Linked DNA regions of Homo sapiens. The protein of the gene in region 2 interacts with the protein of the main gene of each other region in a biochemical or structural test. Each region holds a gene or a part of one and is shown on either strand. Other genes may lie near its edges.

Region 1 (7,021 bases), about 85 Mb from region 2:
CCTGGGAAGATGCCAAGGAGAGAACACAGTCCATTCAGCAGAGGGAGAGAGACATCGTCAAGCACCCTGCCGCAGCGCACTCTGGACTTAGCACAACAAAAACTGGGAGAGGTTTCTTGGTTTATTGCTGTGGTTTTCAAACTATGAGAACACCGGAGTCAAGCAATCATTCTCAAAACACCTCAACATGCATAGAATCACACTGCTTCAGACCTCTAGAATGCAGGAAGACAGCCAAAGAGTTTAGAAACGACTGACAGAGGCCGGGAGTGGTGGCTCATGCCTGTAATCCCAGCACTTTGGGAGACTGAGGCGGGTGGATCACCTGAGGTCAGGAGTTTGAGACCAGCCTAGCCAACATGGCAAAACCCCATCGCTACTGGAAATACAAAAATTAGCTAGGCACGGTGGTGTGTGCTTGTAGTCCCAGCTACTCAGGTGGCTGAGGCAGGAAAATTGCTTGAACCTGGGAGGCAGAGGTTGCAGTGAGCTGAGATCACGCCATTACACTCCAGCCTGGGAGACAGAGCAAGACTCCATCTCAAAAAAAAAAAAAAATGCCCAACAGATTTACAAAGGGACAGGCAGGCTCCTGTGATCCAGCATGAAGTCCAGGTTCTATCACCTGACAGCCTTAGGAAGTGACAAACCTCTGAGCTTGAACTTTTTTTTTCATTGCTTGAGACAGGGTCTGGCTCTGTCACCCAGGCCAGAGTCCAGTGGCGAGATCACAGCTCACTGCAGCCTCAACCTTGGGGTTCAAGCAATCTTCCCACCTCAGCATCCCAAGTAGCTGGGACTACAGGCGTGCACCACCATGCTCGGCTAATTTTTGTATTTTTTGTAGAGATGGAGTTTCGCCATGTTGCCCAGCTGCCTCAACTTAAATAAAAGCCCCTTGTCTAGCTCTCAAATATACATACTATGAAAATCAATGAATGCACATGAAAGGCTGTCACAGTTACTAGTATTAGTCATTCTTATCAAGGAATGACAGAACTTCCCTTAGTCTGGTGTAGGATGAAAGAGATTATAGAGCAGTGATTCTCAAACTTGAATGAGCATCAGAATCACCTGAGAATCTTGTTAAACTACAGATTACAGGGTCTACCCCAGAGTTTCTGATTCAGTAGGTCTGGAGTGGGGCTCAAGAATTTACATTTTTAACAAGCTGCCAGATGATCCCAATGATACTGATCTGAGGATCTAAAGTGTTCGGTAGGAGAAAGCAGCAGAAGAAAATGAGAGAGGGGTCCAAAGCTCTGGACTGGTTTTTGTTGATGCCCCTAAAAACCCAGAGAATTATCCTCCCAAGAACCAGGACACAGGAGGTCTGTCGAAAGATGCTTACCTCGCTGCTTACGGTGTGAATTTCCTGTGGTGTCTCAAGGACCTTTTCCTCCAGACAAGGAAACCTGCCTTCATAGTACATCTGCAGCAGCTGCAGAGCACGGCTGCCATAGCCCATCTAGGAGCAAACGTGAAGGGGAAGAGGCCGAGGGAAGAGAGCTGCTCTCAGTCTAAGCCACAGTGACTCCCCTGCATTGCTTCTAGAGAACCTTCCCTCCCTGTCAAACAGCACGGGGCAAGAGAACCAATGAAAACCCTGAGTGAGGTCAAAGCAGAGACACTTAAGACTGAAAGTAGTGTGACCCGAGTTCTTAACACTGGTCTAGCTCATCAAGAACAGCCACTTGAGGGTAAGGATGGCTGTGCTTTCTGGTCTCCAGATGGGCAAGCCCAAATGAGAGGCAGTTTCTGTACCATTGCCTGAAAAGGAAGTTTCTACAGCCAATTACTCAGTGAGGTGTTCTAAGAAGGTAATTTTGTTATGCAGGTCTGGTTCACAAGTCCTCGTTCTCACAAAGGAAGAGTGAGCATATGCCATCATCCTGTCCACCCACCCACCCCGAACCCTGGCTCAATTCTCCAGAGCAGGGAAGTGCCTACACTTCACTTGCTTCTGCTTGACCAGCTTCTTATTCCAGCCACCAAGTACCCCCACCCTAAAGCACCGCCAGCAACACGGCTTCAGGGGAGCCTGAGGACACATTACCCCTTGATAATCTGGGTGAACAGCAATGCGAACGACCCTTCCACCAGACAGACCACCAAAGTCTGGATCTTGGAACTGTGTGGGAGACACAAACCAGTAACTTAGCAACACAGACATCTTTGGACACCACCAGCTTCCCTCAGACACACCAGGGAAAGCCCGTCACCTGTTCTGACACTGTCCATGGAATCAGGTCCCCTGAAGCCTTCTTGCCTCGAGACAGACTGTTCAAGATGGACTGGCGAGAAATCTCCCCTTCAAGGCACACCTGTGGGGGAAGCAGGACAGTGCAGGCAGAAAGGCCAACTCTGATACAGAGCCCACTCACAGAATATAGCTTGTTTCTCGAACTAGGCCAGTTGTTTCCACCCCCATGTTCAGGTTTAACCCTGACACTGACACATCCATTCCCCCCGCTCTTTTGAGATGGAGTCTCACTCTGTCGCCCAGGCTGGAGTGCAGTGGTGCTATCTCGGCTCACTGCAAGCTCTGCCTCCTGGGTTCATGCCATTTTCCTGCCTCAGCCTCCCGAGTAGCTGGGACTACAGGTGCCTACCACCACACCCGGCTTATTTTTTGTATTTTTTTTTTTTTTTTTAGTAGAGAAGGGGTTTCACCGTGTTAGCCAGGATGGTCTTGATCTTCTGACCTTGTGATCCGCCCGCCTCGGCCTCCCAAAGTGCTGGGATTACAGGCGTGAGCCATGGCGCCTGGCCTGACACATCCATTCTTAACAGGAGCTTAATTACCAGGCCCCATGTTACAGGGCAGAAGACTGACAGCCTCCTGACCCAAAAAGTAAAAGCCACATTAGAAGAGAGTCTCTATGTATGCTGTGCGTGTGTGAAGGCCATCAAGACACAGGATGCTCATGAGGCTCTGTACAGAACAGCACAAGTTCAAAATAACTAAAATGTCTAACAGGTGAATGGTTGAACAAATCATGGTACATGTATATAATGAAATACTACACAGCTTTAAAACTTATGTAGATTATGAGTGTTTTATACACTGCCTAAAAATAAAAGCAGATTACTATGTATATGAAAAGGAAAAGTGATATAGAAATGCATAAATACATCCATGCTAGGCATTAAAAATTTGTTCCCCAATCTGTAGCCTCTAATTCAAAATGCACCATGTATTGCTTTTGTAATAAAGGGAGAAAACAAACAAGTCTGTTTGTGGAAGAAGCTGTGAGTCAAAATAAGAGAGCGGTCGGTTCTGGCTTTTCCCCGTCCGTCAACAGTGGAGCTTTGGGTGTCTAGTGGCGCTAACCTCTTCCAGTGCACCCTAGTCACCTGTCTCAGCAGACCCAGCCCCTTGGTTCCAGACCAGGACTCCACAGTTTCAAAACTCCCACAATGCAGTTATTAAGCCACTAATTCCTGATGCCTCAGTGGTTCCCCAAATCACTGCCACAAGGACGCCTCTGCTCCTATACCTGGATAACAGCAAGCACTTCTGGAAGGGCATTCTGGGTGGGGGGCACGGGAGGCAGAAGGCAGAAGAGATGGTGAGCAGGTGCATCGGAGAGCATCTGGAGATCATTGGGAGAGTTCTGTGGAAGCCAAACACGGGTCAGTGAGAAGCACTCTTCCTCTTGCCCTTTACGCAAAAGGTTCGATTCAGAACCACAGGATGACTGCAGTATGGCCTTCTCCAAAGCCAAGTGAGGAGCAGAAGTCCAGCAAAGCACCTTTCTAGTATTTTGGCAAGCCTGAGACTCTTCATAACAGGTTAAGTGGAACTTAGCCTCAAATGCCTACTGTCCTCTCACCCCGAGCACTGAGGCTGGACAGAAGAAGAGAATTTATTTAGCACTACTTATTTCACAGCTAGGAAGTGAACTTTTTACAGATAAGAGGCTGCTATTTCAGGAAAAACTGTCACCACTTCTAACACCAACTCTTCAAGCCTTCCATTAAAAGCTGTTCATAAAAATACTATCTAGACATTCAAAAAGTATCCTTTTTAACCAACCCTTTTGTTTTTAAGAGTCTCAGATATTCTAAACCCTCAAATTCACTGTTCCATAAAAGTAGCCCAGAGCTATAAAGCTGGTCTCAGGTCAAACTGCACCACCGGGCCACAACTGCAATGTCACCTCATCCTATCAGTTTAGTAGGCAGGCAAGAAATGAAAGCACTCCTTTAAAAATGGACACAGCTTTCCACCCTGTCCCGTTACTGCATGGAGCTACATGCTCTATACCTACACACAGCAAGATCAGTGGAACTCATCAATGTCCCAATGGAACAGTCACCTAAGCCATTGGGTAATAAAATATGCAAATCAAGTAAAAGGGGACTGCCAAATGCTGAAGCTCCCTGCTACCATTCACACAAGGGCTAGCTGCAGTTACCTTGTAGTGAGAAGCCACGTAGAGGGCCATAAGCCGTTGGAGGAAAACTTCAGAGGCCTTGTGGTAGCAAAAGAGGGTATCTCTATTAACATAGTACCTGGGTCTGGAGTTAAGAAACCAAAACAAAACAAATAGCCGAAGACAGGTCATACTACTCTCTGGAGGCAGAACAAATTTCCGTAGCTGGGAACAGGAGCTCAGTGTCCTAAGCAGAAACACATAAAAGAAGGAAGAAGAGGGCCAGGCGCGTTGGCTCACACCGGTAATCCCAGCACTTTGGGAGGCTGAGGCAGGCAGATCACAAGGTCAGGAGTTTGAGACCAGCCTGACCAACATGGTGAAACCCTGTCTCTACTAAAAATACAAAAATTAGCCAGACGTGGTGGCTGGCACCTGTAATCCCAGCTACTCAAGAGGCTGAGGCAGGAGAATCACTTGAACCCGGGAGGCAGAGGTTGCAGTGAGCTGAGATTGTGCCACTGCACTCTAGCCTGGTGACAGAGCGAGACTCCATCTCAAAAAAAAAAAAAAGAAAGAAAAAAAAAAAAGGAAGAGAAAAAGGAAATTGAAAATGTTCAACTTTCCCCTTTCTCTAGAGCAGCATCCTATGAAACAAAGGACTCAAGTCCTTTGAATTCTTTCACCGCCCCTCTCCTTTTCACAGGGCCAGTGAAACCCAGAGGAGGATACAGTTCACAAGCTTCAGGCAAGGGGCAGCCTGAGACTATCCGAGTGATGTTGAGGCAATCCAGGCACAGCAAGTCATTCAGCCACTTCTCCACTGCATCCCCAGGGGCGTATCGGATTGACTCCTGGAGGGAAACCTCATACAGTGTCCGCGCTGCTCCCCACAATCACACACACAAAAGAAGAAACAATGATTAAATATGTATTGTCTAAAAAAGCAAGGAAAAATGTTTCACTTTATATTTGTCCCATGGTGGCCAGAGACGTGTGGTAAGAATTTAAACTGGGTGGTTTAAAATTGTTTTTGGTGGATATTCAACTTGCCACGATACCAACCCCAAAGGGATCTCAATGCAACCATGCCCTGAGACAAGGACACACAAGGGCCCCACCATCAGAAGGCCCTAGTCTGGCTCCCATCTGGTCACTGGACTGCTGTTCCTCCGAAAAAAGCTACTTCTCCTCTTGGGGACTCAACCTCTCAGCCTGATGGTGGGAAGGTTTGGTGCTTCCCATGATGTCACAGGGGAAGCGAGGATCAGTAAGACTGAAGGGCCTTGCTGTGAACCGCGGGACCCGGGTCAGGTTCTGGGGTACCTGATGCCAATCTGGCTGTCGTCGTGGTCTTATTCTCAGCAGTGGTGCTGACCTGGCTCTGGGCGCTCTGTTGACGGAGCTGCTGAATTAGCTTGAGGGACAGTGACCGGCCAGTGCCCTCATAGCTAGAAACAAAGGCAAAAGGAATCAGGCACAAGGTCCCAAATCCACTGTCTAGGAGGGGACAGAGAGCTGCTTTCCTCCACCTGCTGAAACACCAGACCCCTGCTTCCCCCAGGACAGCCTTGCTCATCTCTGAACTTCCAGCATAGCAGGCACCTGTCCAAAGGAGGCAGGGTGGCACGGTGGCTGAGCTTGGGGCCACCCAGGCCTGGGCTCACGTCCTGGCTCATCTACTTAGTATCTTTGGGCAAGGAGCTGAATCTCTTTTCGCCTCATCTTCAAGAGGGGATTATTCTATACACCTCACAGGACTGTGATGTGAACTTAAAAAATAAGGACTGGAAAAAGGATGTAAGTAAAGCCTTTAGCATAAAGGCTTTAGGCAGTTTTAGTGAAGCTGGAACAAAGTTAAATGGTCAACTAACGGAGCTGCTTTTAGAAGTACGGTGCATAAGGAAATGAACTGAGAACATTTCCAGTTTGGAAAATAAAACAAATCCACCACCTCAGTAATTCTTTTCATTGCTATGCCCACTTATAAGGTGACATAAAATAGCTAAAAAATGTTGAGAAAAAAATTAAATCACCTATAATCTGATAACTCAATCAGCTTTCATTGTTGAGTTTTCTTCTCCTTGTCTTTAGTCACAGGCATATGTCACCACAGGGTACACACAGCACTTTTCATTACATCATTTCATAGTACTCATTATTATATTCAAAGACTGTAAAATACTTCCTCTTACTCAAATAATGATAAAAGCTAGATGTTTTATGCCCACTCTCCACACCACATAACAAAGCTCTCCCAAAAGTATCCTATTTATTTATTTAAGAAAAAAGAGTAAGCACAAGCAACAAAACTTCAAAACTTTTGTCGTTAAAAGACATTATTATAAAGAAAGTGGCCGGGCATGGTGGCTCATACCTATAATCCCAGCACTTTGGGAGGCCGAGGCGGGTAGATCACCTGAGGTCAGGAGTTTGAGACCAGCCTGACAAACATGGTGAAACCCCGTCTCCACTAAAAATACAAAAGTTAGCCAGGCATGGTGGTACACACCTGTAATCCCAGCTACTCAAGAGGCTGAGGCAGGAGAAATGGGTTGAACCTGGGAGGTGAAGGTTGCAGTGAGCCAAGATTACACCACTGCACTCCAGCCTTGGCGACAGAGTCAGAGTCTGTCTCAAAA
Region 2 (7,021 bases):
TTTCTAGTCGGGTGGGATGAGAGACGGAGAAAAGAAATAAGACACAGAGACAAAGTATAAAGAAACAACGGTGGGTCCAGGGGACTGGTGCTCAGCACACCAAGGACCTGCACCGGCACCGGCCTCTGAGTTCCCTCAGTTTTTATTGATTATTATTTTTCATTATTTCAGCAAAAAGGAATGTAGTAGGACAGCAGGGTGATAATAAGGAGAAGGTCAACAAATTACATGTGAGCAAAAGAATGTATATCACGATTAAGTTCAAGGGAAAGTACTATGCCTGGACGTGCACGTAGGCCAGACTTATGTTTCTCTCCACCCAAACATCTCAGTGGAGTAAAGACTACAAGGCAGTATCACTGTAAACATGTCTCGCCTCCCGCCACAGGGCAGCTTTTCTCCCATCTCAGAGTTGAACAAATGTACAATCGGGTTTTAAGCCGAGACATTCAGTTCCCAGGGGCAAGCAGGAGATAGTGGCCTTCCTCCATCTCACCTGCAAGAGGCTTTCCTCTTTTACTAATCCACCTCAGCACAGACCCTTTACAGGTGTCGGGCTGGGAGACAGTCAGGTCTTTCTCATCCCACGAGGCCATATTTCAGACTATCACATGGAGAGAAACCTTGGACAATACCCCGCTTTCAAGGGCAGAGGTCCCTGCGGCTTTCCACAGTGCATTGTGCCCCTGGTTTATTGAGACTAGAGAATGGCAATGACCTTTACCAGATGTACTGCTTGTAAGTATTTTGTTAACAAGGCACGTCCTACACAGCCCTAGGTCCCTTAAACCTTGATTTTATACAACACATGTTTTTGTGAGCTCCAAGTTGGGTCAAAGTGGCTGGGTCAAAGTGGCTGGGACAAAGCTACAAATCAACAACATCTCAGCAAAGCAACTGTTTAAAGTACAGGTCTTTTTCAAAATGGAGTCTCTTATGTCTTTCCTTCCTACATAGACACAGTGACAGTCTGATCTTTCTTTCTTTTCCCTACAACTTATTATTATTTTTGAGACAGAGTCTTGCTCTGTCACTGGCCTGGAGTGCAGTGGCCCGATCTCGGCTCACTGCAACCTCCACCTCCGAGGTTCAAGCAATTCTCGTCTCAGCCTCCCAAGTAGCTGGGATTACAGGCACCTGCCACCACATCTGGCTAATTTTTTGTGTTTTTGTAGAGACAGGGTTTCACTATGTTGGCCAGGCTGGTCTTGAACTCCTGGCCTCTTGATCCACCCGTCTCGGCCTCCCAAAGTGCTGGGATTACAGGCGTGGGCCACACCGCGCCTGGCTTAAATGATTTTTTAAAACTAAGTGGCTTAATATTCTGCAATTTTAATCTGAGAGGGGTGGAACAGAAAGCCCCATACCTCATCAGAACCTGGGAGTTGATGAGAAACCATTTGATGACAACCTCCTAGGGGAGATGGGGAGGGAAGTGGGAGATGGCCTCATAGCAGCTTCTGGCAGACCTTCCACCCTCGTGTTCCAGGAGGATTAAACAAGCCTTTCAGCCACAATTCGGTAAGGTGTGGCTCAAGCCATTGTCTCCTTGGATATATTCAAGGCTCTCAGGGAACACTGTTGATAGTGGTATTGGTATTATACTGAAACTTTGTGTTGAGAACCAGGGTTTTGAGAACCAGGGTTTTCACTATGGCAAAAGGAAGATACAAGTAAGGAATGGAGGCATTTGAATAGGGAGGTGACAGTACAAATTACTGATTTAAGGCCAGGCATAGTGGCTGATGCCTGTAATCCCAGTTCTTTGGGAGGCCAAGGCAGGAGAATTGCTTGAGCCCAGGAGTTCGAGACCAGCATGGGTGACATGGCAAAACCCTGTTTCTACAAAAAACACAAAAATTAGCCAGGCATAGTGGTGCTGTCCTGTAGTCCTACCTACTCAGGAAGCTAAGGCAGGAGGATCTCTTGAGCCTGGGAGCCTCTTGAGCAGAGGTTGCAGCGAGCTGAGGTTGTGCCACTGCACTCCAGCCTAGGCAACAGAGCGAGCCCGTCTCAAAAAAAAGACAAAGAAATTTAGGACAGTATGCAAGATTTGGCCTGGATTCTTCTGAGGATGTGAAGTAATGGAAACAGTAAGACTGTTCCAGACTAGGGGAAGACTAGAGACCTAATAGCTGGATTCCATGTGATCTTTTGTTGGACTTTGGGATTGGAGGTGAGAGTAGAGAAGGCATAATGCACGTTTTTGAGACGAGGGAAATGTGAATATAGCCTGTATGCCTACACTCAAGTCTGAAGACATGTAAACCATGTCTATACTAACCAGCCAAATATTTGAACACTAAAAGGAAGAATTTTCTTAATGTGGTAATGGTATCATGGTTGTATAGAATGTTCCTCCTCTTGGGAGATGTGTGTTGAAAATAGGGTTTGACGTCTAAACCTATTTTGTTTTGGCAAAAAGGACGTGTGTCTGTACAAAAGAAGTGGAGCCAGTATGGCAAAATGTTTACAAGGACTCTGGGTGAGAGGTACATAGGTGCTTACTATACTGTTTTGTTTCTGAATTTGGAATTTCTCAAAATTAAAAAAATATCTACTGAGGAGCTTTTCGTTTTAACTGGTGGGGAATGGGTTCTGGGTGGTTTTGCCCCTTTTCTTTTTAGATTCAAGAAATCCATGGTGAAAGGTTTGGATTCCTATGAAGAAAAGGAGGATAAAGTGATCAAGGAGGTAAGTTAAAGTAGCAGTCCCTCACCCTTTTTGCACCAGGGGCTGGTTTCGTGGAAGACGGTTTTTCCACAGATGGACCCAGGCAGGGGATGGTTTCAGAATGAGACTGCTCCACCTCAGATCATCAGGCACTAGATTCTCATAAGGAGCACGCAACCTAGATACCTTGCATGCCCAGTTCACAATAGTGTTTGTGCTCCTATGAGAATGTAACACCACCACTGATCTGACAGGAGCTCAGGCGGCAGTGCTGTTGCAGCCTGCTTCCTGACAGGCCACAGACCAGTACTGGTCCACGCCTGGGGGTGGAGGGCCCAAGTTAAAGGAAAGGCCTCTGAAGAAACTGGCCCCCATGATCCTGTACCTGTCTAAGCAGCCTCTCTCCCACAGATGGCAGCTCAGATCCGTGAGGTGGAGCAGAGCCGACAGGAGGTGGTTCGGTCTGTCTTAGAGGTTGGTTTCCCTCGGAGGATCCAGACCAGTATCCAAATCCACTGATCCCTGGCATTCCCAGGTCCAGCATTTCATGGACTAGTGCTTCTTCTTCTTCTTTTTTTTTTGGAGACAGAGTTTCGCTGTGTCACCCAGGCTGGAGTGCAGTGGCACGATCTCGGCTCACTGCAACCTCCACCTCCCAGGTTCAGGTTCAAGCGATTCTCCTGCCTCAGGCTCCCGAGTAGCTGGGATTACAGGTGCCGCCACCACGCCTGGCTAATTTTTATATTTTTAATAGAGGTGGTGTTTCACCATGTTGGCCAGGCTGGTCTTGAACTCCTGACCTCAGGTGATCCACCCGCCTCAGCCTGCTGGAATTACAAGCATGAGCCACTGTGCCCGGCCATGAACCAGTGCTTCTAAGAGAACTCTGACTGCATTCTCATCTGCTTGGCTTGAATTCCCTTACCTGTGTGCCAGGGGGCAGGCCTAGTCAGTGAATATGTGGACAGGACTGGGAGGGAGGGAGGGAAGAGTCTGTAAAAGATGGGCAGTACCTTCCATATGCTAATTTGTTTCCTTCCTGTGATACTGGGGTCTGGAGGGTGGAGGCATGGCCTAGGCAGGCTCTTAAGCATCCCAGACACATTTATTTTTCCTGAATCAAACTCAGCCTCAGGCAGTGCCAGACCCAGAAGAGGGCTCTTCAGCACCTAGAAGCTGGAAAGGGATGAACAGGTAAGACTATTAGGGAATCTCTTGTTGGGAATTTGACATCTTAGAACATTCTGCAACCTTTTGCCTGGGAAATGGAAACAGATCTAATCTTTACCACCCTCATGGCTCAAGGACCTCATCTGGCAGCCTGGCTCATGTTTTTCAGCCAAGTAGCTTCCAGCTTACAGCAGCCCTCAAATTTGGACCTGCCACCAGCTCCAGAGCTTGACTGGATGGAGACAGGACCATCTCTGACATTCATTGGCCATCAGGTACAAAGGATAAGCAAGCCAGAAGAGGGCCAATGGTCCCTCAGGTCTCAGGACCCCTTTCTCCTGATTTTCTACCTATTCAAGCCACTGCTGCCTCCACTGCAGGCTTTTCCTTCTTCCTTCACTGTTCCCTAGTAGTGTTCTCAGACCTCTTCTCACCCTCCAAAGCGATCCTATTCACATGTATTGACACTTAGGAGTGCCAACTCCTAAATCTTGCCCTCTGTAGAACTCATAGTTCCAACTCAACACAGGACATTAAATATCCCACAGGCATCTGAAACTAACCCCCACCACTCCTATATTTCCAATCACTAGATGCAGATCCTTTCCTTTTCCATCTCCCATATCCTGTCAACAAGCGGTCAATTTTAACCTGTCTGCCTCCATTCAGCCTTTGGGCAATTTCTACTCCCCCTTCAATCCTGCCTCACAAACAGAAAATCATTGTACCACTTATGATTTTACTCTACACTTCAGCTGTATTGTGTTGCTTCGGGCTTTTGCAGTTGCCATTGTCTAAAACCTGCTTTCCTTCCCTCATCACCTAGTTTACCTTCAACTGTTAGCTCAAATGTCACTTTTTCATAAAAGGCTTATCTGAACAGGTTATCTCTATTTCAAGTGGATGTAGCACCATGTAAAGTTGCAAATGTAATTTACGTAACTTGTGCTTAATGCTCTTCCCCAATTATATGTATGCTGTGAGGGCAAGGTTTTGCTCCCCTGGCATGTAATAGCCACTCTACTTACAGACATCTCCACTGTTATGACTGTGAGCTTCCTGAGGACAGGGTTGTCTTAGAGTGACTTACTGTGCTTTCAAAGTTTAACATCAGCTGGGGTGCAGAATTAGCATTGTGGCAGCAGTCACACCCACCTCTTTTAAAGTGTGCTTTGTCTATCGTTTCTAGGATTTTTTTTTTTAATCATGCCTAGACTTTAACTAGCACTTTTTTTCCCATTTCCAACTACAGGATATACCAGGAGTTGGTAACATCCACTCAGGTAAGGTCCAGGGCAGTGTTTTTAAAACCCTGGGAGATTTTTTTTTTTTTTTGAGATGGAGTCTTGTTCTGTCGCCAGGCTGGAGTGCAGTGGCGCAATCTCAGCTCGCTGCAACCTCTGCCTCTCAGGTTCAAGTGATTCTTCTGCCTCAGCCTCCCAAGTAGCTGGGGTTACAGGTGTGCACCACCACACCCAGCTAATTTTTTTTTTTTTTTTTTTGAGACGGAGTCTCGCTCTGTCGCCCAGGCTGGAGTGCAGTGGCGGGATCTCGGCTCACTGCAAGCTCCGCCTCCCGGGTTCACGCCATTCTCCTGCCTCAGCCTCCCAAGTAGCTGGGACTACAGGCGCCCGCCACTACGCCCAGCTAATTTTTTGTATTTTCAGTAGAGACGGGGTTTCACCGTTTTAGCCGGGATGGTCTCGATCTCCTGACCTCGTGATCCACCCGCCTCGGCCTCCCAAAGTGCTGGGATTACAGGCATGAGCCACCGTGCCCGGACTTTTTTTTTTTTTTTAAATAAAGTTGGCCAAGATAAAGCGTATGTATCGGTAAAAGCCTTATATCCAGAATATATGAAGAACTGTCAACTTGATAAGGAAACAACCCAATAAAAGCATATGAATAATGTTCAACATTAGTCATTAGAGAAATGCAAATTAAAACCACAGTGAAATACCACTACATATGTATTGGAATGGCAGAAATTAAAGACTGATCATGCCAAGTGTTTGGCAGTGTAGAAAAACCAAACCTTCATACACTGCTCTTAGAATGTAAACTGGTACAGTCACTTTGGAAAACAGTTTGGGATACACCTACCACATTATCCAACCGTTCCACCCCTAACTAGAGAAAAGAAAGCCTGTCTACATAGACTTGTACACAAATCTTCAGAACAGCTTCACTTGTAGCAGCTCCAAATTGGAAACAATTCAGATGTCTATCAACAGGCAAATGGATTAACAATGGAATAGTATTCCAGGATGAAGACAGAATTATTGATACGTACGACACAGATGAATCTCAGAAGTCCAGACCTGGCCGGCGTGGTGGCTCATGCCTGTAATCCCGACACTTTGGGAGGCCAAGGCAGGCGGATCACGAGGTCAGGAGTTCAAGACCAGTTTGGCCAACATGGTGAAACCCCATCTCTACTAAAAATTCAAAAATTAGCTGGGCATCGCAGCGCACGCCTGTAATCCCAGCTACTTGGGAGGCTGAGGCAGAATTGTTTGAACCGAGACCTGGGAGGCGGAGGTTGCAGTGAGCTGAGATTGTGTCCAGCCTGGGCTAGAGCGAGACTCCTCTCAAAAAAACAAAAGGCCAGACCCCACCTCAATGTCCACACACAGAAAATCCTAAAAAATACAAACCAATAAAGCAACTGAAAGATCACCGATTGCCTGGACATGAAAATATTTTAATGGGGGCAGTGATACTTACAGGGGGATGTTTGGGGTCTAGATTGTAATGGCTTCGCTCAAAAGTCACCAAATTTAAGTGTGTATCGTTTATGTCAGTTGTGCCTCAAAGCCATTTTAAAATGACTGTCACATATGGGGTATGTCGCTTTAAATTAGCCTAGGGCCTTCTAAAGCTCCAGAATTCCTGGGCTTTGCTTTTAGACATTTCTAGCTCTTAATGAGGAGAGGTAAGCTAACAGCTAGGACATGTTTCACAATAGCCTGAAGACTTAAAAAAAAAAAAAAAAGCCTTAATTTTTTTTTCAGGTGCCACACCTCCCTGGATGATCCAAGATGAAGAATACATTGCTGGGAACCAAGAAATAGGACCATCCTATGAAGAATTTCTTAAAGAAAGTAAGTAAACTAATTCAAGAGAGGATCGTCTAAATCTTCACACTCAAAAATGGTTTCCTTGCCTGTGTGTGGTG
Region 3 (7,786 bases), on a different chromosome or scaffold from region 2:
GTACTTATATTACTTTATGCATTTGTCACACATTAATACCTAAAATTTAGTGAACATTTATTATGCTCTAGTCACTGTTGTAAGCAGTTCATATGTATAATTCATTCCATTCTCATAATACCATGAAGTAGGTACTGTTATTACCATCAACTTAAAGATGAGACACAGAGAAGGAAATTGTACAAGATCTGTCAGTAAGTGGAAGAACTGGGACTTAAACCCAGGCAATCTGGCTCCAGAGCCTGAACTCCTAATCTGTGCTATGGTGCCTGTTCAAGGAAAATCTTATTTCCCCTATTAAAATGTGAGTTCCTTGAGGGACAGAATGAAAAGAGGTTTTTGTTGGCTTTTGTTGTTGTTGGGGACGGAGAGGGGGGTGCGTATTTACATCCTCCACACTTAGGACAGTTCCTGAGACACAGCAGACATTTGCCAGTATTTGTTGAGCTGAACTGGCCTCAAATACTCAACCAAGGCGTCTGGGCTGGGCGTGGTGGCTCACGCCTATAATCCCCGAATTTTGGGAGGCTGGGGTGAGAGGATCACTTGAGCCCAGGTGTTCAAGACCAGCCTGGGCAATACAGGGAGACCCCGTCTCTTTTAAATTAAATTAACAACAAAAAAAAGCCAGGCGTGGTGGTATGCGCCTGTAATTGCAGCTACTCAGGAGGCTAAGGTGAGGGGAACCCTTGGGCCCAGGAGGTCAAGGCTGCAGTGAGCTGTAATCGTGCTACAATACTCCAGTCTGGGCAACAGAGCGAGACTCTGTCTAGAAAAAAAAAAAAAAAGAGAGAGAGAAAGAGAGAGAGTCTGGGTTGTTCTTCCTATAGGTCAAGGATCACCAAATTATTCTGTAAAGGGCCAGATAGCAAATATTTTAGGCTTTGCGGGCCATAAGGTCTCTGTCACAATTACTCATCTCTGCCCTTCCTGTGCAAAAGCAGCTACAATATGTAAACAAATGAGCATGGCTGTATTCCAAGAAAAGTTTATTTACGAAAACAGTGAGCCAACTGGCCCATGTGCTCCAGTTTGCTGACCCCTATTATACAGATAATAGGAATATATTAAAGGTTTCTAAGCAGAGAAATTGAGTTTTTAGATTAACTGTGATGGCAATGTAACCAGAAAGAGACCATCTAGGAGTTTCCATATTGAAACCAAAGTCATGGCCTCCTTTATCTTTCTATAATCATTCTAAAACAGTGTTGTCCAATGGAGATACAATGTAAGCCACAAATGTGAGCCAGGTATGTAATTTTAATTTTTTTCTTTTTCTTTTTTTTTTTTCAGAGACAGGATCTCGCTCTATCACCCAGGCTGGAGTACAGTGGCACAAATAGTAGCTCACTGTAACCTCAAGCTTAGGCTCAAGCAATCCTCCTGTCTTGGCCTCCTAAAGTGCTGGGACTACGGGTGTGAGCCACCATACCTAGCCTACTTTTAAATTTTCTAGAAGTCACATTTTAAAAAGACTTTTAAAAGCAGGTGAAATTAATTTTAATAATACATTGTATTTAACCCAATATACCCAAAAATATTGCCATTTAACACATAATATAAAAATTGACATATTTTACATTCTTTTTTCATAGTAAGTCTTAAAAATCCAACGTGCATTTTCATATGTAAAGCACAACAATTCAGATAAGCCCCATTTCAAATGTCTAATAACCACATGTGGCTAGTGGCTACCATACTGGACAGCATTAAAAGAATGATCAACTAAACCTACAGATCTCCATATGCAGCTGCTGGTTTTGGGACCATCTCCTTGACCGGCTTGCCATTGATTTTTGACCGAATTCTGAACTATATATACTACAGTTTGACATTACTGGCAACTCAATAAGGCAATGTCTTCATTTTTTATGTTACATTTGTACACCACTTAGTTTTCACATACGATTTCACACCTGATCCTCATTACAAACACGTGAATACGCAAAAGATTTCACACCTGATCCTCATTACAAACACGTGAATACGCATGTTATATCAGTTTTACAAATGAGGAAAGAACGTTCAGAGAAAAAAAGAGACAACCATTGAGTGTTAGAACTGAGAAAAAAAAAGTAAGTCTCCTGACCTCTGGTCAAATCTATTTACGCCCCAATAATACCACCTCCTTAATCAAAGTTGCACTTCTCTGTGCGACTGGTCTTTATTTCCTCCAGTGATTGTAAACTCCATGAAGAAAAGGACTGTTTTTCCTGACCACTGTATTCCCAGTGCCCAGTAAGGTGTTTTACAAGGAGGCAATATTTATTGAATGAATTAATGACGTTTCTGCTTTTCTCATTTTTAGTCGGTTAAATGTAATTTACTTTTTTAAAGCAACTGATGTGAAGAGCCAAAGTACGCCACCAAATTGGTAGGTTTTTAAAAGTTGAACTTTACTGCCAACATACTTCAAAAGAGAACGAGGGGGAAAGGCTCGGAGCCAAGGCCTGAGTTCTAGTCCTGACCCTGCCATGAACTGGCTGTGAGCCCTCACGTAAATTTTTTTAACTTCTCTGGGCCAGAGTTCTTATCTGTCAAAAGGGAAGAGTAGGGCTATAATCTTCACGATTCCGTGCACAGGTAGGGTTTTTGACATTAACTTGATGTGAGCCGGCTTCCTAACTCCTCACACCCTTCCTCCAGTCCCCTCTGCAACGGCCGACTTGGTGAGAGAGGTAACCACCGGGCCCTCTGGGTTCCCTATCCGCTTCCTAGGGGGGCCGACTCGACACCTAGGTGCAAGGTGGATCCCACGGGCCAGAACCGCCATCTTTCCCCATTGGCCTGACCCCAACCGCCACCCGCGGGCACTGGATGACGCGGACCTTACCTCTCCTCACAGTCTTTGCATTTCACCTGCAACGGGACTAGTTGGTGGAACAGCACTTGGCTCATGTTGGCTCGCTGCCTCGGCTGGTGTGCAGAAAAGCCCAACAGGCCCGGCCCTCGGGATTAGCCTGAGAGGTCCGGGTCCTGATAAAGTTTGAGTTTGGCGCTCGGCTTCTGCGGAGGAGGCGGGGAGGGAGAAACGAGGGGAAGGCGTAAGAGACTTGGCCCTCGCCAGCCACCATCGGATTCTTCCGGTTCTGCGGAGGATAAAGGGAAGACGGTTGTGGTAGTTCCGGGTATTAACCTGTGTGGCGCGGGGGCTGAGGCAGCCATGTTTGTTAAGGGAAGGAGACCCGAAGGAAGCTTCTAACTTTTCTTCTGGTTGCCGGATGCTGGACACCGGAAGCGAGCCCTAGAATTATGGCGACCTCCGCGACGTCGCCGCACGCGCCTGGTTTTCCAGCTGAGGGTAGATGCGGTTACTATGTGGAAAAGAAGAAACGGTTCTGCAGGATGGTGGTGGCCGCAGGGAAAAGATTTTGTGGTGAACACGCTGGAGCCGCGGAGGTGTGGTATCGCCCTACTCTCTCAAGAGTCGGAAATAAGTATCCTGGTCCTGTCGGTGCTGGAACCCGGCCCCTCCCCTCTTTGACAGCTTTCTGCTTGTGTCCCCTGGATTCTCCAGCTTTCACTTTAATAAACCCAGTTTTGCCCTCCTTGCGGAGCGATTATGAGTTCTAGTGATGAGAAATTTTTTATTTTTCTAAGTAAAGCGCCAGCAGTGACCCATTTATTTTGATCTATTTATCTCGATCTTAACTCATGGTAATGCTAGGTTTTAATTTTTACCCCAAGCTACCGCTCCGTCTTCCTGCTGGAAAGTGGTAGTTTAGAAAAAGTAGTGATTGAAGTCCCAAAGGTTTCACTAGTTGTGTTCTAATTGTTATTTCATGAAAGAGAAGCACTTCTCGTGAATGCGGTTGGAAGAAACTTTCTTTTAAAAATTTAGACTTGAGGCCCGGCGCGGTGGCTCACGCCTGTAATCCCAGCACTTTGGGAGGCCGAGGCGGGCGGATCACTTGAGGTCAGGAGCTCGAGACCAGCCTGGCCAACATGATGAAACCCTCTCTCTACTAAAAATAAGAAAATCAGCCGTGGCGCGAGCTACTAAAATTAAGAAAATCGTGGTGGTGCGAGCCTGTAACCCCAGCTACTCGGGAGGCTGAGGCAGGAGAATCGCTTGAACCCAGGAGGTGGAGGTGGCAATAATCCAAGATCACACCACTGCATTCCAGCCTGGGTGACAGCCAGACTGAATCTCAAAAAAGAAAAAAAAATTTTTTTCGACTTACAGTTTTTAAGAATGCAACTTTGCTGGAATGGGAAGGAAAGATTTTTAAATATATACGAATTGACCTTTTACAATTGAGAACAAAGCATACAATTTTGTTTGATAATTATGCATATAAATGTACTATCAAACACTTTATATTTGTATATATGTATATTACTTTAGGATATATATGAGATGGGAAAATAAAAACCAGAGGAGCAAAATGCTCATAGGAAGAGAGCATGTCCTTATAGTTCCACAGAACTATAAAGAATAAACCAAAGCGATCAGCATCAGATTTCATGCTTCTGAATGTTCAGTATTATTTGCATTATTTTATTTCTTAAGGAATTTATTCTTCTAGACAATATCCAGTGCAGATCAGTCCCCTGACCCCCTTCATCTGCCACTCTCCATCATAGTTGTAGTCTACTTCCTATTTTGTTTTGACTGGCATTTACCAAAAGTGAAGCATACTGAAACAAGGACATTCTTGTTTTGGAATATGGGAGACGTGATTTGTTGTGGGAACTCTGAATTATGCCCATAGTCTATTGACTGGTTTTGAGGGGACTGGCAAACATCCCTTGTTGAAGAATGAGAGTTATGATAGGAGAAGGATTTAGACTCCACCTTATCCAGATATATGGAAGGTGAAAACAAATAGTGATGATAGTAGAATATGAATAAATCCTTACAAGCTGATTAGTATTCCTATAGAGGAACGACATATTGTCATTAGACACTTGAAGAGAGACCGCAAAACATCAAGTGGAAACACTTTTATTGACTACTATCTCGTTTTAAATTGTGGCTATCCTCCTGAATCTGTAATTTATGATGTAACTGGATGTTGTGTTTCCATCTTTTTTTCTAAGTGTCATATATAGCTGTGATGACACCACTCATTTTTACCCAGTGGTTCTCGACTGGGACTGATTTTGCCTCCAGTGAACACTTGGCAAAATGAAGACATTTTGGTTGTCAAACTGAGGAGTATCACTGACATCTAATGGATAGAGACCAGAAATGCTGCTAAACCTCCTACAAATCACAGGACAGCCCCCTGCACTCACCCCCTCAAAAGAATTACCTGCCCAAAACGTCAATAGTGCCAAGATTGAGAATTCCTGTTTCTAAATTCAACTAATAAATTTTAAATGTGCTTTTTTTTTCCTATGCTACAGTTAGGCTCTGGGGGTTAGAATAGTCTTTTACATGGAGGTTAGGATTTAAAGTCAGCAATAAGGAAGAAATTATATACAGTATTTTCTTTTTCTTCTATTGAATATATAGTATTTTCAAAAAAAAAATTTCTTAGCTTTCCCATGAAATTCAGTGTGAATAGCTTCATGGACATGCTGAGAGGCACATTCGAACAGAAATAAATTTTTAAAAGAATAATAATAGCAGACACTTAGTCACCACTTACTCTATGTACAGCACTGGGCTAGGCAGTTTTGTTTTGTTAACTATTAGCTCACTTAATGTGTTCAAACCTTAGAAGGTAAGACATATTTTTGTTCTCATCTTTCAGATGAGGCAGTAAGCCTACCTAACTAAGGTCATAGGGATCGTAGCTGGTAGGTAGAGCTGGGTATCATACCTAGGCAGTCTGGCTGGCCTGTGTTCTTAACTGTTATATGACCCCTATTTATACAGATTCATGTGGAATATTGGGTAGAATTGCCAACATTATCAATTTTCCTTTCTTTTTTCCCAGTTCATATAGTCATGTGCCACATAATGACATTTCAGTCAACAACAGACCGCATATATGATGGTGGTCCCATAAGGTTATAATACTGTATTTTTACTGTACCTTTTCTATGTTTAGATATGTTTAGATACACAAATACTTACATTGTGTTACAATTGCCTACAGTATTTAGTATGGTAACATGCTGTACAGGTTTACAGCCTAGTAGCAATAGGCTATACTATATAGGCTAGATGTACAGTAGGCTATACTATCTAGGTTTGTGTTACTATACTGTATGATGTTCTCCCAATGACAAAATCACCTAAAGATATATTTCTCAGAATGTATTCCCAGTCATTAAGTGATGTAACTTAGGAATGAGTAGGATGTAACTGATAGTAAAAAGTTGCAAAGCCAGTAAAATATGGCACATCCAAATGGTTAAAATGCCATGTTCCATTGTTTCTAAGAAACTTTATTTTTACATTTTAACATTCTAAAATCAGGATACATCTTAAAATCCATATGTCAATGGGCAGCATTTTCCAAAAAATGATTAGTATGTGAGGCAATACATGTTAATTAGCTTGATTTAGCCATTCCACAATGTATACATATTTGAAAACATTATGTTGTATTAAAACCATACATAAATAATAGTGTATATTATTTTTATTGCCATAAAAATCACAATTACTTTTGTACAAACCTAATATGTGATAAATATATACAACTATTTGTCAATTAACATGAAATAGGCAGCATTTTTTTCTTTCTTGGTTGTGCATAAAATAGTCATACATATAATAGTTGATGCTATCTTAGATTTCAGACACCATATGTAGGCCTTCTCTATACCCTGTTTGAAGCTATAGACCCTTGTTTGTCCAAAGCAGTATTTGTTCATATGTATTTAAGCCAGTACACTGGAGAGTTTTTGTTAAACCCTTGGGACCTGATTTTGCCAACTTTTCATTATGTCCTTGTAAGGTTTCCTTACCTTGTTTTGAGATTACAGAGACACTGAAGTTATATCTGGTATCTGTAAGCAATAAACTTGATATTTTATTTAAATAAATGTATCTCTTAATTTATTAGGAAGAAGATGCTCGGAAAAGAATCCTGTGTCCTTTAGATCCAAAACAGTAAGTGTGGATCAGATACGGGTTTTTTTTTGTGCTGGAAACAGTAATTGGCACAAGTCTCATTTGAAATAATTTTCTCTTTAAATTTAGCACAGTATATGAAGATCAACTAGCAAAGCATTTGAAAAAATGTAACTCAAGAGAGAAACCAAAACCTGTAAGTGTTTGATCAGTAAAATTGAATGGTGAAATGTGGTATGTAATGCCTTGGTAGATGCTGCACATGGAATGTACTTGTTTCATAGCTGAGGAACCCAAGCTCAGGAAATATAATTTTTTTTTAAAGAGATAGGGTCTCACTCTGTCACTCAGGCTGGAGTGCAGTGGCGTGATCGTAGCTCACTGCAGCCTTGAACTCCTGGACTCAAGCAATCCTCTCACCTCAGCCTCATGACTAGCTGGGACTGTAGGCAAACGACACCACACCTGGCTTATTTTTTTATTTTTTTATAGAGACGGGGTTCTCGCTGTGTTGCCCAGGCTGGTCTCGAACTGCTGGTGTCAAGCAGTACTCCTGCCTCAGCCTCCCAAAGTGCTAGGATTATAGGCGTGAGCCACCAAATCCAGCCAGGAAATACAAATATTTTTAAATTGGGTAGTAGGCAAACCTGCCTGACTTTTGTTCCATAAGTAGACATTTATTTATTACACTGTACAATAAGGGCTGCCATGCGATCCAGGAGGTGACACCATTTCTGTCTTCCAAGGGTGCTTGGTATACAAGCTCCCTTGAAAAGGTAGTCTGGGAAAAAAGATAATCAGTGCCTTTGCTTC

The links.
Region 1: the proteins of CENATAC (region 2) and NAT10 form a complex in vitro, tested with the Homo sapiens proteins (one study listed by BioGRID).
Region 3: the proteins of CENATAC (region 2) and SASS6 form a complex in vitro, tested with the Homo sapiens proteins (one study listed by BioGRID).

Annotation. Positions count from the first base shown.
Region 1 is NC_000011.10:34,129,622-34,136,642, reverse strand, and holds part of NAT10 (RNA cytidine acetyltransferase), read right to left. Parts: intron 5,831-7,021; coding exon 5,706-5,830; intron 5,263-5,705; coding exon 5,112-5,262; intron 4,519-5,111; coding exon 4,422-4,518; intron 3,618-4,421; coding exon 3,501-3,617; intron 2,325-3,500; coding exon 2,223-2,324; intron 2,132-2,222; coding exon 2,057-2,131; intron 1,469-2,056; coding exon 1,352-1,468; intron 2-1,351; coding exon 1-1. UniProt on the Homo sapiens protein: RNA cytidine acetyltransferase that catalyzes the formation of N(4)-acetylcytidine (ac4C) modification on mRNAs, 18S rRNA and tRNAs.
Region 2 is NC_000011.10:119,008,137-119,015,157, forward strand, and holds part of CENATAC (centrosomal AT-AC splicing factor), read left to right. Parts: intron 1-2,627; coding exon 2,628-2,694; intron 2,695-3,084; coding exon 3,085-3,147; exon of another isoform or gene 3,148-3,175; intron 3,176-3,802; coding exon 3,803-3,867; intron 3,868-4,012; coding exon 4,013-4,118; intron 4,119-5,095; coding exon 5,096-5,126; intron 5,127-6,857; coding exon 6,858-6,947; intron 6,948-7,021. UniProt on the Homo sapiens protein: Component of the minor spliceosome that promotes splicing of a specific, rare minor intron subtype. Negative regulator of centrosome duplication.
Region 3 is NC_000001.11:100,129,917-100,137,702, forward strand, and holds the start of SASS6 (spindle assembly abnormal protein 6 homolog), read right to left. Parts: upstream 3,015-7,786; 5' UTR 2,899-3,014; coding exon 2,834-2,898; intron 1-2,833. Other genes in the region: TRMT13 (tRNA:m(4)X modification enzyme TRM13 homolog), read left to right, coding at 3,253-3,399, 6,966-7,012, 7,103-7,169.